Linked DNA regions of Homo sapiens: region 2 is linked to region 1. Evidence: fine-mapped expression QTL. A gene starts in region 1. The other region holds a variant in brackets. All regions are shown on one strand. Distances are between the middles of the regions. Region 1 holds the start of BICDL2 (BICD family like cargo adaptor 2). Region 2 holds the start of CCNF (cyclin F).

Region 1 (5,361 bases):
TCGCCTGGTGTTCCGCTATACTGCTGAGGAGCTGGACCCAAGATCCAGAGAGGGCCAGCAGCTGACCCAGGGTCACACAGCTGGACGAGGGTCTGAACCCAGTTTGTTTTTGTTTTTTGAGATGCAGTCTCGCTCTGTCACCCAGGCTGGAGTGCAGTGGCATGATCTTGGCTCATAGCAACCTCTGCCTCCCAGGTTCAAGTGATTCTCCTGCCTCAGTCTCCCAATTAGCTGGGACTACAGGCACACCCCATCATGCCTGGCTAATTTTTTTTGTATTTTTAGTAGAGACGGGGTTTCACCATGTTGGCCAGGCTGGTCTTGAAGTCCCGACCTCAAGTGATCCAGCCACCTCAGCCTCCCAAAGTGCTGGGATTACAGGTGTGAGCCACCATGCCTGGCCTGAATCCAGGTCTTAATCCTCAGAGTTCATGCCTTTTTTCCTTTCCTTTCCTTTCCTTTTTTTCTTTTCTTTCTCTCTCCTTCCTTCCTTCCTTCCTTCCTTCCTTCCTTCCCCTTCCTTCCTTCCTTCCTTTTTTTTTTTTCAGGATCTCACTCTGTTGCTCAAGCTGTAGTGCAGTGGATCATAGAATCATAGCTTACTGCAGCCTCAAACTCTAAAATTCCTGGGCTCAATTGATCCCCCTGCCTCGGCCTCCTGAGTAGCTGAGACTACAGGTGCCACCACCACATCCAGCTAATTTTCTTATTTTTTGTAGAGACAGAGTCTCACTACGTTGCCCAGGCTGTTCTCCAACACTGGGCTAGTGATCTTCCTGCCTTGGCCTCCCAAAGTGCTGGGATTACAGGTGTGAGGTACTGTGCCCGGCACCCAGAGTTCATGTTCTTTGCCACTGGGCAACACTGCCAGGGGGACTGGGCCCAGCTCTGACCTGTTCCAAAGTGCCCCCCTCGCCCGGCTGTCCTCCCCAGCTCCTCTCTCCTTCCCTTGCCTGACTCCCTTCCCTTGTCCTCTCCAGGCCCACCCGTCCTCCCCTGCCCACCCACCCACCCACCCCGTCCAGTGCTAGCTCACTTCCTCACGCTCCAAGTGCTGGGCGCTCAGCGTCTCCAGCTGCCGCCGCAGCTCTTCATTTCGCTCCAGAAGCATCTTGCCGAGCTCCGCGGCCAACAGCAGGTCTTTCTCCTTCTGCTGCAGCTGCAAGGCTAGGTCCTCGGGCTCCTCAGGCCCTGGGCCCCCTCCCAGGAATGAGTCCCGCCGCTCCAGCACAAAGGGGAAGAAGCCCTCGTCGCCGCTGGGAGAGGCGCCCCCTGAGAGCGGCCCGGACGGGAAGCTGGGCCCATCTGGAGAGCTCATGTCACCTGCAGCATCTGCGGGGACAGGTGGCTGCGGGACACTCTACTCTGCAGCCTGACAGGGGCTCACCCTCCGCCCAGCACCTGGCCCTCCAGGAATTCTCCACCTGCTGCCAGCCTGCCCGGTCCTGCAGCCAGGGCTTCCTGGGCCACAAAGGGTTAATGACCTGTGTTTTGGCTACCCAGTTCCGTTAATGTCCCTGGGGTAAACTGAGGCAGGAAGCAGAAGGAAATGACCTGCCCAGCCTTTGGCCTCTGCCAGACAATCTCTGTCCCCAGGAAAGCTCATTCCAGTGCTCCAGGGCCACAGGCCACCTCTGCTCCCTGTCCCCTCTCTTCCCAGAACCCAGCAGTTTGGCTTGTAGCCCCTCGCCATCTGAGACAGTTCCCAGAACCCAGGTTCTCAGGGACTCAGCAGTTGGAGTTGGGCCCAGCCTCTTCTCTCAGGAATGCAGGACCCTAAGGCTTGGGAACTGAGGTATCTTCGCCCCCAGGAATCCAGCTCCTTCCCCTGCCAGAAGCCCAGATCCCAGCCCCTGACCTCCCGGGTCTCTCGCCCTCATTCTCCTGCTACCTCCTGAGCAGGTGCTTTGACTCCACCCTCCAGACTCAGAGGTCCCCACCTCCAATGTCCCCCACCAAGGATTCCCACCCCAGTCCCCATTTTCCACGGGACTCAGGCATTCATGCCCCCACCCCTCCGGACTCAGGAGCCCTGACCCTCAGCCCCCCAGTTTCCCAGGGCCCTGGCGTGGGGCCCAGGACAGGGCGAGGTAACAGGTTGTGCCGGCCGCCCGGCCGCAGCGCGGCTCGGAGTTTCTGTTTACTTCCCGGTCCGCCCCTGGGGACGGGAGCCCTGGGCTCCCCTAGGGCGGCTCAGGGGCTGGGGTTCAGGGGCTCGGGTCAGAGGGCCCGACACAACAGCTTTACCAGCCCCAGCCCTCCGGGGGCTCACCACCCACTAGGCACACACACCCGTGCTCTCCCTCCTCCTCTCGCCCGGTGTCCATGTGCAGCCCTGCTCGCAGGACGTGAGTGTCACGGTGGTCCCAGCCCAGCCGCCCCCAGGCCGCTCCCGGGGACCTCCCTGACTTGGCCCTCGCGGGCCCCGCTCCCCCGCCCCCCTCCACGCGAGAGACAGGGACCTGGAGACCGCTCCCCCTCCCCTTCCGCACCTAGCTGCCCAGGTGTTGGGGCCTCCAGCCCCAGGCGTCGGAAGCCCAGAGAAGCGGCTGGGCTCACCCCCGACGGCTGAGTTCCTGCCGGCGCCCCCGGTTCCCCGGCGATCCCGGTTCCCCTGCCCCCGCCCCGGCTCCCCCACCTTCTCCGCCGACGCGGCCGGACCAGGCCCTCCCCAGGCTCGAGGGGCCCGGCCCTCGGCGTCCCCCAGGCTCTCACCCGAAGCCGCCGGGCTCCCTCCGAGGTCCCCGCGGTCTCCGGTCCCCTCTTCCGGAGGCGGCTCCAGGTGTGCGGCCAACACAGGTGAAGGGGCGGGGCCGCGGGAGGGGCCGGGGCGCTCCCTGGCTGCCTGAATGGCCGGGCGGGGTCGAGGGAGAGTCGCTTCCACCTGGGTGGGGGGCACTGGCCCAACCTGCTGTGGTTGCAAATGGCCCGGCCAGTTAACTGAGCATCTACTGTTTGCAGATCCTACATTGAGGTAGCCTCCGCTCCTTTCCCGTCACGACTGCCTTGCCCTGTGGGGCAGGAAATTATTAGCAATGACAACAACACCGAATCTGACATCTTAAGCATTCTGCTAAGTAAACTCTTTTTTATTTTTTAGAGATGGGATTTTGCTCTGTCACGCAGGCTGGAGTGCAGTGGCACCATCACTGCAGTCTCGTCCTCCCAGGCTCAAGCGATCCTCCCACCACAGCCTCCCCCGTAGCTGGGACTGCAGGTACATGCCACCATGCCCAGCTAATTTTTGTACTTTTTGTAGGGGTGGGGTTTCACCATGTTGCCCAGGCTGGTCTCAAACTTCTGGATTCAAGCAATCCTCCCGCTTCGGCCTCCCAAAGTGCTGGGATTACAGGCATGAGCCTCTGCTTCTGGTCAAGTAAACTCTTTTATAGGCATAACTTGTTGACCTTTTTTTTTTTTTTTGAGATGGAATTTTACTCTTCTTGCCCAGGCTGGAGTACAGTGGTGCCATCTCAGCTCACAGCAGCCTCCGCTCCCGGGTTCAAGTGATTCTCCTGTCTCAGCCTGGTGAGTAGCGGGTACTATAGGCATGCACCACTACATCCAGCTAATTTTGTATTTTTAGTAGAAATGGTGTTTCAATGTTTTGGCCAGGCTGGTCTCAAACTCCTGACCTCGTGATCCGCCCACCTCAGCCTCCCAAAGTGCTGGGATTACAGAGTGAGCCACCTCCCCGGCTCAACTTGTTGACTTTCATGATGACCTGATGACGAGGAACTGCTGTCATCCCCATCTTACAGATGAGGAAGCTGAGGCTCGGAGGCGGAGGGGGGTCCTCCACCTTGTTTGGGGTCCCCTGGTCAGAACTGGAAGGTGAACAGCACAAGTGTGGCTTTAGGGTCATGCTCTTTACTGATTCCCATGCCGCAGACAAGGACACTGTAGCCCAGGCAGTGAGAGTGACTTGCCCAGAGCCATGCCCGAGTCCGTGTGGCTCCACACCTGGGGTTCTCAGTTCCTCAGTTATGCAGAGCTGGGGACCGTGCTCTTGTCTGGGACAGGGGCTTTGGTGTGGAGATGGGAAGGTCCGGGGCTGGGGACCCAGGGTGGCTTGGGCAGCAGTGATGCCCCATCCATGGCCTTGTGTCTTGTCACGATTTATCTCCAGACTCCAGGGCTCCCTGGGCCTCGTGACAGGGGCTCCTGGCCTGGAGAGCAGGACAGATGGAAGGCTGGGAGCAGTGGCGTGCTGGTAAGCGTTTAACAACAGGCTCCCCGGCTAAAACAATAGCCCTCGCTCGTTGCATTTGCCAATATCCATGATGCAATACCTGCTCCTCGGCTGACTTCCAGCTACTCACCTGGCGTCACGGAGTGCAGAGGTAGAAGGGGCTGTGCACATCAGCTCTGGCTGGCTGGTGTCAGCTGGGTCCGTGCACCTCTGGCTGGGGATCAGGACTCCTGAGTCTTGGGGGACTGGGGGCTACTTACTTGGGTTCTAGAAAAATAGGAGGAGGGTGGGGGCTGGGACTCCTGGCTTGTGGGAAAAGGGGAGCAAGGACTCCTTGGAGGGGTGACTTAGGAACTGGGACTCCTGGGTCCTGGGGCTGGGACAGGGTTTTCTGCCAGCAGAGAGTAGGGGAGCCAGAGATTTGTCTTACAGCCACATTGCCCAGCAAGCCTGACACTTTCTCCCACTGCACCTGTGGGAGCAGCCTGGTAGCCACTGGAGGACTGAAGACATCCCAGCCTCCCCTGGGTGCTGCTATGTGACCCTCTGGAAATAGAAGCTCAGTGTCCCCTCCAAATGCCAGTCACCCTGGGCCCCACTCACACCCACACGTAGCACATCTTGAGCGCCTCCTGCCAGGCTGAGCTCATCCCAGGATGAAGTGATTACAGCCCTACTCCCAGAAGGTTCACAGTCCACCTGGGCCATGGGAGGGAGCGTAGACCTATAAACCAGAAATGAACCAATAAAACAGTACAGCAAAGTGCTTGGCCCATGGGTGCTGGCATCACATAGCTTCGGTCCAGGATCCAGTTGGCCACATACCAGATGTGGGTGCCTATGCCCTTCAGCTGATTAACCTCTGCGGCCCTCAGTTTCCCCATCTGTAAAATGGGGATGATAGTTCCTAGCTTATAGGGATGTGAGGATTTTTTTTGAGATGGAGTCTCGCTCTCTCCCCCAGGCTGGAGTGCGGTGGTGAGATCTCGCCTCACCGCAACCTCTGCCTCCCGGTTTCAAGCGATTCTCCTGCCTCAGCCTCCTAAGTAGCTGGGATTACAGGCGTGTGCCACCACACCTGGCTAATTTTTGTATTTTTAGTAGAGACAGGGTTTCACTGTGTTGCCCAGGATGGTCTTCAACTGACCTCAGGTGATCTGCCCGCCTCA
Region 2 (5,361 bases), 610 kb before region 1:
CTGGAGGAGCCACTTATCACCCCAGGGCAGCCCTGGAGGCTCCCACTGCCAGTGCAGGGTGTGGGGCGAGAGCAGGCATGGCTGCAGTCAAGACAACTCCTGCTCCCTGAAAAAGAAATTTGCCTGTCCATGTTGAAAGGAGAGTGATCAGGACACAAAGCACAGGATAGAGCTAAACAACAACCTAGGGACCAAGGATGCTGTTCTAGATTCTAGAGGCAGCTGGTGTGGCTAATGTGCTCATGGCTGGCTCTAGTTGATTAATCCCTTCAAGATGCTATGGAAGCTAACCCTGAAAGTGCACCTCTGCCCTAGGGGGAGACAGGTAACAGTGACAAAGTAGGAAACAGTAACCCAGGAGGACAAAAGTGAGATAAGGGGATAATAAATCTGGGGGCTGAGAACATGGGACATCTGGGGAGCAGGCCCCAAACTCGCTCAGCCTGTCCTCTCTTCACCCTCCTTCACCCGCTTCCTGATTCCGGGACAGGGAATATTCCCAACTTCCAGACCCTCTCTGGGGCCACGGACTCTTCTGTACCCTGTGCTGTGATCACCTGTTTACTCTGTCTCTTGCCCCAGGCCGGCTGAAGCCTGCACGCCAGGGCTCCTGTCTGTGTGCCCAGGGCAGGCCCAGTACTTGAAGGAGTTCTATGGGGACCCGGAAGGATGGAAGGGTGCAGACTGAGGGAAGCGTGAGGGAGGGGTGGGCAGCCTTGGCCCAGGCCCCTGCCTTCCCCAGGAAAAGCCCCCTCTGTCCTCCACCAGACAGTCAGGAGGCTGCGAGTCTTCCCCTTGACAGCCTGTGCCGTAAAAGGGGTGCGGTGTGGCTGACTCCTGAAGGACAGCTCAGATGGGCACTGCCCAAGACAAGAGTGAGCAGATACGACACTTCCCGCGGCGAGCAGCTCCAGGTAGCAGCCGAGGAGGCCAGACAGGGGGCAGCATCTGGCCAAAGTGATGGGGAGGGCTTGCCCCGGGGCTGGAGCACTGAGGCGTCCAGGGTGCGCCACGTTTCGCGGGAAGAAGGGGTCAGCGTTCCGCGGGGGAGACTTCCCAGCGTCAGCTCCGACCTCCTCTTTCTCTACCACGATCCCGGCCAGCATCCCCGCCCAGCAGCGGCTCAGCCACAAACCCAAGGGTCTCCACCTGAAGCAGGCGGCGGAAGGGAAGGCCGTGCAAGCTGGGGGTGAGGGTCGCGGGCCCAGGAGCGACCCCGGGACCCGGGCAGGGCACGGCCTCGTCTTAGAAGCGCCACGTCGAGGCTGTCCCAGGCTGGATCACGGCCGCGACTGCGAGGGACGCCAAGGAGTCCTCTTTCCCCTGGCCGCAGGCGTGCGCCTTCGCAGCCCATCTGGCACCGCAGATGCCGGTCGCCGGGGTCAGCGGCGAAGCCCGAACCCATGCGGCCGGGAGGGGACGCCCACAAACCCCTGCCCGCCGGCCGGGAAGCGCTCCTACGGGACCCCAGCCCCGTTGGGGAGGCGGGGCGGCCACGCGGGTTCCACCAATCAGCGGCCAATGTTCGAATTCGCGTCCTGGCGCGGCCAATGGCGGGTCCCGGAGCAGGCGGGGAGGGCGTGGAGGGCGGTAAATGAGGCGAGCACAGGGCGGGACATGGGCGGGGCCGGCGGCGGCCCCCCCGGGCAGGCCAATGGGAGGGCCGGGTGCGTTTGAAAACTGGGGTGGGCGGCGGGGCGGGGTCTGCGCCTGCGCGAGGGCTACGCGCGCTCCGGCCGGGGCGCGGGCGCGCTCTCAGGCGGGCTCCGGCGGCAGCGACGCGAGCGCGGCGATGGGGAGCGGCGGCGGTGAGTGCGGGGCGATGTCCGCTGGTTTCTGCCCCACACCCCTTCTGCCTGCCCTGCGGGGCGGACGGTGGGTCCCGCGGGAGGGGAGGCCCTGGCGGCCTGAAGAGGGCTGGCTCGAGCTCTTTAACCCGGGGCGGATGTCGCGTCCCGCGCAGGGAGCCCCGGCGGCCGGGCGCGCGGTTTAAATGCCCGGCGGGCGCCCGAGCCCCTCGGAGCCTTCCCCCGCGGCGACGTTTTCCGGCCCTTTCCTGGGGCAACGATCGGGTCCCGGGGCAGCGATCCGGCGATCGGGTCCCGGGGCGGCGATCGGGTCTCGGGGAGCCAAACACCAGCGCCTCCTGGTCGGGGAAAGGGCTGCGGAGCGCGTGGGGGCGAAGCGATCCCGCAGCCCGGCCGGGCCCTGACCGAGCCTCAGTCCAGCGGGGCCGTGGACCTAGCTCTGTGGAAAGCAGCGTTCGGCCCCGCGCGCGTTGAGGCACAGGAAACACGAACTGTGGTTTCAGCTATTATCATAGTATCTGTCCTGGAGCCGGAGAATGAGGAATATTTTATGGAGAGGTCTATAGAATCTTTGAGAATTCGTCGCCCTGGAATACGTTTGGCTTTTGCAGCTGATTTAATTGCTAACAGGAAGACCCCGGTCAAGAGAGGGGAGCCGGGAGCAATCGCTAGGAAGTCCTAGCAAGGCGGGGAGGGATTTGGGCCCACAGAGGGGAGTGGCGCTTCCTTTCAGGACTGGAAGGAAGGATGGATAGAAAGGTAGATTTGTAGATGGGGAGGCAGGATCCTGAGGTTCCTGTCTGAGGGCTTCTGTTTCCCTGTGAAATAAGGGCTAAGGTCATCTGCTTAGAGTGAGGAAGGGGTTGCTGGAGTAGGAGTTGGAAAATCCGGCTGTGGGAAGAGGAGAGAGCACATCTGAGAAGCATGTCCGGGCTGCCTGCCTG[G/A]TGGGTGGAATGCCCGTCTCACCTTTAATGATTGCATCTGTACACAAACCTACAGGTCTAGGTTTGTGTTGGGACCTGAGCAACAACCTTACTGCGTAGCTGTCAACTCCGCATTCTACAATAGAGGGCACACTGAGACTCTGCAGAGCTGAGACTTGGACGCACACTGCCCCGGCCTCCAAGTCTGTGGCTTCTCTCCAGGGCCGACCCTTCTAATTTGGACTTGAAAACCAGACTCTTCAAGCCCACAGATCTTTATTGAACATTATGCACCTTGGTCACGTGTGCAAAAAGCAAAGCTATCCAGCAAAGGCCCCAGGAGTTTTCCTGAGAGTGAAATAGAAGGAAAACCGTCCTCAGCTTCGGCAGCTTTTTCCCCTTCCTGCCTGTCATGTGGGCTCTGGATCAGAAAGTTTCCCAATAGCCAAGTTACATGACATGCGCTATTTGCCATAAATATTTGTTGAATATTTGAAAATGAATGATCTCTTCTGTAATTTGTGCAATGCCACTCCTTTACATAATCTTTGTTTGGGACAAGAAGCATAGTTCCATCTTTTGTGGCACAGGGAATAGTAACCATTAGATCATCTTCAGATGTAACTTTTATCCTTTTTTTTTCCCTTCAAGGGTGTGTATATAGAATAATTTTTCATCTTATCAAGGCTTCTGTCTTTTTTTCCTTCAGTGGTCCACTGTAGGTGTGCCAAGTGTTTCTGTTATCCTACAAAGCGAAGAATAAGGAGGAGGCCCCGAAACCTGACCATCTTGAGTCTCCCCGAAGATGTGCTCTTTCACATCCTGAAATGGCTTTCTGTAGAGGACATCCTGGCCGTCCGAGCTGTAAGTCCCTGCATGAAAACACTATGAGCCCTAGCATTGTTGATTATACCATCAGGCCTTGTGTTCTTAACTGTCAGAACAAAACTTTGGCTAAAAAAGAGGTTGGGGCAGAGGCCAGGCACGGTGGCTCATGCCTTAATCCTAGCACTTTGGGAGGCCGAAGGGGGGTGGATCACCTGAGGTCAGGAGTTCCAGACCAGCCTGGCCAACTTGGCAAAACCCCCATCTCTACTAAAAATACAAAAATTAGCCGGGCGTGGTGTCTCACGCCTGTAATCCCAGCTACTAGGGAGGCTGAGGCGGGAAAATTGCTTGAACCTGGGAGGCAGAGCTTGCAGTGAGCCGAGATCACATCATTGCACTCCAGCCTGGGCGACAGAGCGAGACTCTGTCTCAAAAAAAAAAAAAAAAAAAGGAGGGCAAAAAGGAAACAAGGATGATATCATTACCAGATGCTTTCTTTAAGACATTCTGATTACAGAAATTCCTACTGCTGTCTCCTAGCACACTAAAATTGCCTCTGTTCATTGCAGTGTCAACAAAGAAAGTACCTTTTTTTTTTTTGAGACAGAGTCTCGCTCTGCCACCCAGGCTGGAGTGCAGTAGCGCAATCTCGGCTCACTGCAAGTTCCGCCTCCCAGGTTCATGCCATTCTCCTACCTCAGCCTTCCGAGTAGCTGGGACTACAGGCACCCGCCACCACGCCCGGCTAATTTATTGTATTTTTAGTAGAGTTGGGGTTTCACTGTGTTAGCCAGGATGGTCTCTATCTCTTGACCTCGTGATCCGCCCGCCTCGGCCTCCCAAAGTGCTGGGATTACAGGCATGAGCCACTGCACCCGGCTGAAAGTACCCTTTTATGGCAGTGAAATTTGCATCCCTTAAAAAATAGGATAGTGTTTAAAAGAATAAGAATACATTCTTGAGGACAAATTCCATGTAACATTTAACACTGAAATGGACTCTAGGAGTTATTTTCTAGATATTGGAACCATAGGCTTACTTTGAGTGACTTAACCTAGAGTATATAGTGGATTCATGGGGAAATGCCAGCAAGAACCCATTTTCTGACTCCCAAAGCCACCTCCATTGCAGGTGCGACACACTTTATGGACCCCAGGGGGTGCTGAATTTCCAATGGCAGTGGAAACTTTGGTGCTTAAAGTGTTCACCTGTGCTCCAGGTCCTGGCCTGGACACTCCTGCGTTGGCCCAGCGCTTAGGCTCCGGGTTCTACCTGAGACCTCCATCATGGGTGTTGTTCTTTGCCCTGAGTCCCTGTGACCTGTTTCCACACTCCCACTAGCAAGGCCTCCAGCGGGGAAGCACAAAACACATTTCCGTCCTGCCTGCCCCCTTTTAGAGTGTTTCCCCTGTCTTTGGGGGTGATACCTTTGCAGGGATGTTGAACCCTCTTTCTCAGCCTAGGTGTTTGTTTCCTCCTTCCCAGATCATTGTCCTCTGCCCTGCTTTAGAACCTCAGAGAAACTCGTTTCTGGGCTCTTTTATCTGCTCAAAGTGACAGTTACTTTCACACAGAGATTGGGGACCTCAACTACTTGGGATGGCGAGGGAGACAGGAGACCCTACATCTGCCTCTCGTCCTCAAGAGCCTCCAGGTGTGGGGCTTTTGGGTGGTGCCTCCATCACCCAGCCCCGGCCCCCGTTGTTCTGCAGGTACACTCCCAGCTGAAGGACCTGGTGGACAACCACGCCAGTGTGTGGGCATGTGCCAGCTTCCAGGAGCTGTGGCCGTCTCCAGGGAAC

What was found. PIP is the estimated chance that this variant, and not a neighbour inherited with it, causes the effect.
Region 2: its variant is fine-mapped to the expression of BICDL2 in minor salivary gland (GTEx, PIP above 0.99).

What each region holds. Positions count from the first base shown.
Region 1 is chr16:3,034,179-3,039,539 of GRCh38, forward strand. BICDL2 (BICD family like cargo adaptor 2) reads right to left here and starts at 2,766. Exons shown (of 10, transcript NM_001369667.1): 1 at 2,716-2,766; 2 at 1,037-1,348. The coding sequence starts at 1,318. LOC100128770 (a long non-coding RNA gene) reads left to right here. Exons shown (of 8, transcript NR_047572.1): 3 at 720-816; 4 at 1,160-2,782; 5 at 3,101-3,217; 6 at 3,452-3,528; 7 at 3,657-3,834; 8 at 4,130-4,955. RefSeq lists an enhancer at 3,476-4,363.
Region 2 is chr16:2,427,690-2,433,050 of GRCh38, forward strand. CCNF (cyclin F) reads left to right here and starts at 1,758. Exons shown (of 17, transcript NM_001761.3): 1 at 1,758-1,808; 2 at 3,441-3,595; 3 at 5,272-5,361. The coding sequence starts at 1,793. RefSeq lists enhancers at 819-1,398, 834-1,013 and silencers at 1,224-2,073, 2,084-2,133. The variant G/A (reference allele first, on the strand shown) is at 2,753.